2 linked regions of the Homo sapiens genome follow. The protein of the gene in region 1 purifies or fractionates together with the protein of each later gene. This does not show direct contact. Each region holds a gene or a part of one and is shown on either strand. Other genes may lie near its edges.

Region 1 (3,500 bases):
GATGGGGCCACAGAATTCCTTACGGATTTCATCCAGGAAGCGCGGGAAGTTGGCATGCAAGGGGCTTCCTTCCTGGGTGACCGAGATGGCCCAGTCCTTGGCTTCGCCAGTGAAAAAGGAGATCAGAAAGGCCACCCGCTCGGCGCCCCCGGGGAAATGAACCTCATGGTCGGCTATGAAGGTCTCTAGCTGCATCAGGAATTCAGCCAGGTAGACTGGGTCTCCTGAAAAGGGCTCTATCTCAGGCCGCTCCAGCGGTGCCAGAGGGGGTTGCGGGGGCGGTTCCTTTGACGCGGGCGGAGGCAGCGCCGGCGGGGGCGGGATGGGCAGCAGAGGGGGGTCAGCGGGCCCGTCGGGGGTGCTGCGATCCTGGATCACGTTAATCAAAAGATCATCCGAGATACAGTCGGGCTCCGCGCGTGGGGGAGGCCGGCACAAGAAGGGCAGTTCTCCCCCGGGAATGACTTCGATCTCACTGAGCGCGAACTCCAAGTTCTCCTCCGCAAGGACGGGCACTATGGGTACTGGCCAGCGGATGTAGCTGGAGACATTGCCCCGCAAGGAATTAACCTCGGCCAGGGCTCTCCCGAGCTGGAGGCCCAAATTGGCATTCTCCCCGCGAAGGGCATTTAATTCTTCGCGCAGGGCCACATTCGCCATGCGGAGGCTGTTGAGATTTCCTGACGCCTCAGACATCTCGACAAGCCCAGGGGCCCTGGGGCTCCGTGGTGGGGAAAGGGGAACTGGAACTACGGGCGGCCGGAGGAGGCCGAAATGCGGCGGCGGGGCTCGGGAGGGACCGAAGTGCGGCAGCGGGGCACGGGCCAGGCCGGGCCACACCCACCGGGGCGAGCTCGGAGGGCGGCGCTCTGGGCGGAGGGCCCGGCGGCTCGGCCCAGGGCGCGTTACCTCGTCGCCGGGGCCGGAGAGGGCGGGCGGAGGCACGGGGCCCGGAGGCGCCAGGCGGAGGATGCGGGCGACACGGTGGCGGCGGCGACCGCGCGACCGGGCGGGCGGGCGGGCAGGGGCGAGCGGAGCGGGAGGGAGCGGACTGCGGCAGGATCTGTCGAGGAAAAATCTTGCGGCCGGCGATTCCCCGCCTTTTAAGCGCAGCCTCGCACTCCCCCCACCCCACGCAGGGGCGGGCCTTGGGGAACCGCGGGCGCCCACTGGCCGCCGCGCGCCGCTCCCCTCCAGCTCGCCTGCGCCTCTCACTGACTCTCTCCTTCCCTAGCTGCAGCTAACTCGGGTCGGGAAAATGCGACAGCGACTGCCCACTCGAGGTCGTCATGGCGACAGCCAGTGAACGTGTTCCTCTCCTCGGGCAGGCCCCCGAGTGTAGAGGAGCTGCTTCGGGAGGCGCAGCTCAATCTCCAGAGCCTGTTGCAAGGTACCGAGAGGGAGGGGGGCTGCGGCCGGAGCCCAGAAGCGAGATGCGCAGCGGCAGGAGGGAGGCAAAGAAGAAAGAGGACAGGGACCAGCAAGATAAAGACAGAGAGTTTAAAAACAATCGACAAAGCAGTTTCCAGCTTTCACCTTTCAGCCTAATGATTCTGAAAGAGGCTATTTCCAGGGCTGTTTCCCCCCATCCCCAGCCCCTTTTTTCAGCTCAGTAGCCCATGGGGAAACAAGGACAGAGACTGAGGCAGGGCCATAAGTTATGCCATTCACCGAGAGCTGGGTGGGAGACTCCCACAATGTGGGCCTACATTCCCTCCAGCCCCCCTCTTGCCACATCGCCCATGCCTTTGGGATCCTGGCACCAGAAGACAAAGGGGGCATCTGCAGGATCTCCCACTCTGGGCTTCACTCACTCTGCTCTTGCAATAACCCCTGGATAGCTACTGCCTCACCAAAGTAAGCCCAATACACAGCACCCAGAGGTCACCTATTTTGTCCCCCCTAACCAAGCCTGAGCTTCTCGATGTAAAGAATCACATCTTGCTACCCTTAGGTTTCCAGAAGCACCTGGCACAAGGCTGGATTCCCTCCCCACCTGCCAAGAGGTGCTCAGTGGATGTTGAGCATGAAAAGAGGTCTTGTCAGCACTCCTTTATCTATACTAATAAAGGTTAACTCTAATGGCGAATAGAAAACTGCTGATGGGCCACCAACAGGATGACAGCCATAACCCCCACCCCCTACCAGGGCAGTGGTGACCTTGGAAAAGCAAGATGCCAAGGGACACCATGAGCCTTGTGTTCAGATAACAAAGGACTTGCCACACAGAAAAAGAGTCGATGTGCTCTGTGTTGCTACCATGGCAGAATTAGGACCAGTGGGTGGAAACCCAGAAGGAGGCACATTCCACCTCCAGATAAGGAAGAACTTTCTGACACACCTGACAGCCCCAACTGTCCGTGGAAGAAATGAGCTGCCTTGGGAGGGAGGGAGCTCCCCTTCCCTGCAGGTGTGTGCGCTGAGGCTGAAGAAACACCTAGAAGGGCTGCTGAGGAGGGAGTCTGGGCACAGAATGAGGCGTTGGACCAAAGAACCCCAAGAGCAACCCCAAATCTCTGTGATTCTGAGTCTTTGTTCAGTGTACATACAGCATGAATGTCCCTTCTCTACTCTCACTTTCTTCATGTATTCTCATCAAATTCATCACTTCAATCAACCCTATTCAAATCTTGTGCATCCTTACTCACTGATGATGCCGCTGAACTTCTGCCTCTTTTATGCTGTTACCTCCTCCTTCCCTCTCCTTCACCTTAGCCCTCCTAGACCTGACATCACTTACAGCGGGACTAAGGTGCAGGGAACACGGCCCACAAAGGCTCAAGTAAAAGTTCTTGACATCCAAGAAAGAACTCCAGATTGGACTTCCTGGTGTAAATCTCTTCTTGCTTCACACAGGTCATTTCCTTGGTAGGGTCGCAGAAAACCTTAAGAGCTGCAGGGCTTCAAAGAGAGGAACTTGCAGTCCAAAGTAGCAAAAGGTGTCTGCATTCTGAGCCTCTTTTCGTAACTGAGCACTCAAGGTGGGGATCATTGAGATAAGGGCTTGGTCCCCAAACCACCACAGCATGAATTTATTGACTTTCTCTTCTCCTCGATCCTCATGGTCCTGGGAAGCAAGCACTTTTCCATTTCCAAATCCAGTGGCTCAAACACCTGGAAATAGCCTAAAGAAAATGCAAGTCAGGCCTGGCAGCTAGAGCAGGAGTCCTGGCTCATGGCCCTTCCCCGGCCCAGCGCTCGGCCATGGCACCCTAGAGTGTGTGTCTCCACTGTGCTATTTTTCAGAAGAATATGAGGAACAGTACTCGGAGGCCAGACTTGTGGGGCAGACCTTCCGCTCTTCTGATGAGGCCACTAAGCCCACCCCCAACCCAAGGCCCCAGTCTGCCAGGCGTCTGGAGTTTATATTGATGGTGAGTTGCCTCATCCCCCACCTGGGAGAGCCAGCATGCACCCACTGACAAGAGACCTCCAGCTGCTTACTTTACCCACTGGAAGCTGCTCAGCCCTGCTCACCAGCAGAGCTACCCTGAGGCCCC
Region 2 (3,500 bases), on another chromosome or scaffold:
GATCTTTTACAATTGAGTTGTTTGAATTCTTTGTATATTTTCATTATTAATCCCTTATTAGTTATATGGTTTGCAGATATTTTCCTGCATTCTGTAGATTGTCACTTTGTTGATTGATTCCTTTGCTGTGCAGAACATTTTTAGTTTGATGTAATCCCATTTGTCTATTTTTTCTTTTGTGGCCTTTGCTTTTGAGGCTTTATTTCCTCAAAATAAGCCAGGCACAGAAAGACAAGTACTGCACGATCTCACTCACATGTGGAATCTGAAAACGCTGATGCCACAGAAGAACAGAGCAGAATGGTGGTTACCAGAGGCTGGGGTGGCTGGCGGAAGGGGAGAGAGGAAGATGTTGGTCAAAGGATACACATTTACAGTTAGATACAAGGGGGAAAGTCCAGAATAGGCAAATATACAGAGACAGAGAGTAGACAGGTGATTGCCTGGGGCCAGAAAGCAGGGGAGAGAGGATCAGTGAAGAACGGGTAGAAAAAGTGAGAATAACTGCTAATGGTTAGGGAGTTTCTTCTCCCTTTTTTTTTTTTTTTTTTTTTTTTGACAAGGTCTCGTTCTGTCACCCAGGCTGGAATGCAGTGGGGCAATCATGGCTTACTGCAGCCTTGCCCTTTTGGGCTTAAGCAATTCTCCCACCTCAGCCTCTCCAGTACCTGGCACTACAGGTGTGCACCATCATGCCTGGCTAAATTTTGGTTGGTTGTTGTTTTGTTTTTTTGAGACGGAGTCTCACTCTGTCGCCCAGGTTGGAGAGCAGTGGCGCGATCTTGGCTCACTGCAACCTCTGTCTCCCAGGTTCAAACGATTCTCCTGTCTCAGCCTCCTGAGTAGCTGGGATTACAGGTGTGCACCACCATGCCCGGCTAATTTTTGTATTTTTAGTGGAGGCAGGGTTTCACCATGTTGGCCAGGCTAGTCTCAAACTCCTTACCTCAAGTGATCCTCCTGCCTCAGCCTCCCAAAGTGTTGGGATTACAGGTGTGAGCCACCGCCTAATTTTTGTGTTTTTTTGTAGAAATAAGGTTTCACCATGTTGCTCAGACTGGTCTCAAACTCCTGAGCTCAGGTGATCCCCCTGCCTGGGCTTCGCAGGGATTATAGGCTAAGCCACCGCACCTGGCCACATTTAAGTCTTTAATTCATTTCGGGTTGATTTTTGTCTATGTTGAGAAGCCAAGGTCTGATATTATTTTTCTGTATGTGTGTATCTAGTTTTCTCAACACCGTTTATTGAAGAACCTATCCTTTTCTCATTGTGTGTTCTTGGCACCTTTGTTAAAAATCAGTTGGCTGCAAATGCATGCATTTATTTCCAGGCTCTATTCTGTTCCATTGGTTTATGTGTCTGTGTTTATGACAATAGTGTGCTGTTTGGGTTACTATATCTCTGTAGTTTTTTTTGTTTTGTTTTGTTTTTGAGACGGAGTCTCACTCTGTCACCCAGGCTGGAGTGCAATGGCGCAATCTTGGATCACTGCAACCTCCGCCTCCCGGGTTCAAGCGATTCTCCTGCCTCAGCCTCCTGAGTAGCTGGGGATTACAGGCGTGCGCCACCACACCCAGCTAATTTTTTTGTTTTTAGCAGAGACGGTGTTTCACCATGTTGGCCAGGCTGGTCTCGAACTCCTGCCCTCAGGTGATCCGCCCACCTCAGCCTCCCAAAGTGCTGGGATTACAGGCGGGAGCCACCATGCCCAGCCTCTGTAGTATATTCTGAAGTCAGGTAGTGTGATGCCTCCAGCCTTGTTCTTTTGCTCAGGATAGCTTTTGCTATTCCAAGTCTTTTGTGGTTCCACACAAATTTTAGGATTTCTTTTTCTATTTGCATGAAGAATATGGTAGGTATTTTGATAGAGACTGCATTGAATCTGTAGATTGCATTGAATCTGTAGATTGCTTTGAATCTGTAGATTGCATTGAACCTGTAGATTGCATTGAATTTGTAGATTGCTTTGGGTACTATCTATTGTTTATTTATTTTTTGAGATGAGTTACCTAGGCTGTTACCCAGGCTGGAGTTCAGTGGTGCAGTCATGGCTCACTGCAGCTTTGATATCCTGGGCTCAAGCGATCCTCCCACTTCAGCCTCCTGAGTGTCTGGGACTACAGGTGTGAGCCACCACGTGCAGCTACTTTTTATTTTATTTCTTTTCTTTTTCTTTTTTCTTTTTTTTTTTGAGACAGAGTTTTGGTCTTGTTGCTCAGGCTAGAGTGCAATGGCGCAATCTTGGCTCACCGCAACCTCTGCCTCCCGTGTTCAAGCAGTTCTCCTGCCTCAGCCTCAAGCTACTCAAGCTGGGATTACAGGCGCCCACTACCACGCCTGGCTAATTTTGTATTTTTAGCAGAGATAGGGTTTCTGCATGGTGGTCAGGCTGGTCTGGAACTCCTGACCTCAAGCGATCTGCCTGCCTTGGCCTCCCAAAGTGCTGGGATTACAGGCATGAGCCATCACGCCCAGCCTTATTTTATTTTTTAGTAGAGACAAGGTCTAGCTGTGTTGCCCAGGCTAGTCTTGAACTCTTGAGCTCAAGTGATCCTCCCACCTCATCCTCACAAAGTGTTGGGATTACAGATGTGAGCAACAGCACCTGGTCTATTAATTCTGTTGTTGCCAGTGTTTTTGGTGTCATATCCAAGAAATCATTGCCAAATCTGATGTCATGAAGCATTTCTCCTGTTTTCTTCTAAGAGTTTTATAGTTTTAGATCCGATGTTTAGGCGTTGATCTGTTTTGAATTAACTTTTCTTTTTTGTGTGTGTGTTTGGTTTTTTTTCGAGACAGATCCTTGCTCTGTCGCCCAGGCTGGAGTGCGGTGGCGCAATCTCGGCTCACTGCAAGCTCCGCCTCCCGGGTTCAAGCGATTCTCCTGCCTCAGCCTCTCTAGGAGCTGGGATTACAGGCCCCCGCCACCACACCCAGCTAATTTTTTGTATTTTTAGTAGAGACGGGATTTCACCGTGTTAGCCAGGATGGTCTCGATCTCTTGACCTTGTGATCTGCCCGACTCGGCCTCCCAAAGTGCTGGGATTACAGGAGTGAGCCACCACGCCAGGCCAAATTAACTTTTCTGTATATTATATAAGGTAATGGTCCAACATAATTCATGTATGTGTGGATATTCAGTTTTCCTAACACAATTTGTTGAAAAGACTATTCTTTTTCCATTGAATGATCTTGACATCATTGTTGAAAATTGTTTGGCCACATATGTGAAGGTTTATGTCTGGGTTCTTTGTTCTGTTTAATTGGCCAGTATGCCTTTCTTTATGCCAGTGCCACACTGTTTCAATTACTGTAGCTTTATGGTAAGTTTTGAAATAAAAAGGAGTGAAGTCTCCAACTTTGTTCATCTTTTTCAAGATTGCTTTGGCTATTCTGGGTCCTTGGAGATTCCTATGAATTTTAAAATGGGTTATTTTTGCAAAAACAAAGTGCTGTTGGAATTTTCAAAGGGATTGCATTGAGTCTTTAGAAGGCTTTG

What was found. Proteins that work in one complex are often made in the same cells at the same time.
Region 2: the proteins of NHSL2 (region 1) and CYFIP1 purify together in Homo sapiens (affinity purification with mass spectrometry; 2 studies listed by BioGRID and IntAct, with this or other methods). This does not show direct contact.

What each region holds. Positions count from the first base shown.
Region 1 is NC_000023.11:72,130,845-72,134,344, forward strand, and holds part of NHSL2 (NHS-like protein 2), read left to right. Parts: coding exon of another isoform or gene 1-696; exon of another isoform or gene 697-1,071; intron 1,072-1,234; coding exon 1,235-1,390; intron 1,391-3,246; coding exon 3,247-3,374; intron 3,375-3,500. Other genes in the region: RTL5 (retrotransposon Gag-like protein 5), read right to left, coding at 1-696.
Region 2 is NC_000015.10:22,970,369-22,973,868, reverse strand, and holds part of CYFIP1 (cytoplasmic FMR1-interacting protein 1), read left to right. Parts: intron 1-3,500. UniProt on the Homo sapiens protein: Component of the CYFIP1-EIF4E-FMR1 complex which binds to the mRNA cap and mediates translational repression. In the CYFIP1-EIF4E-FMR1 complex this subunit is an adapter between EIF4E and FMR1.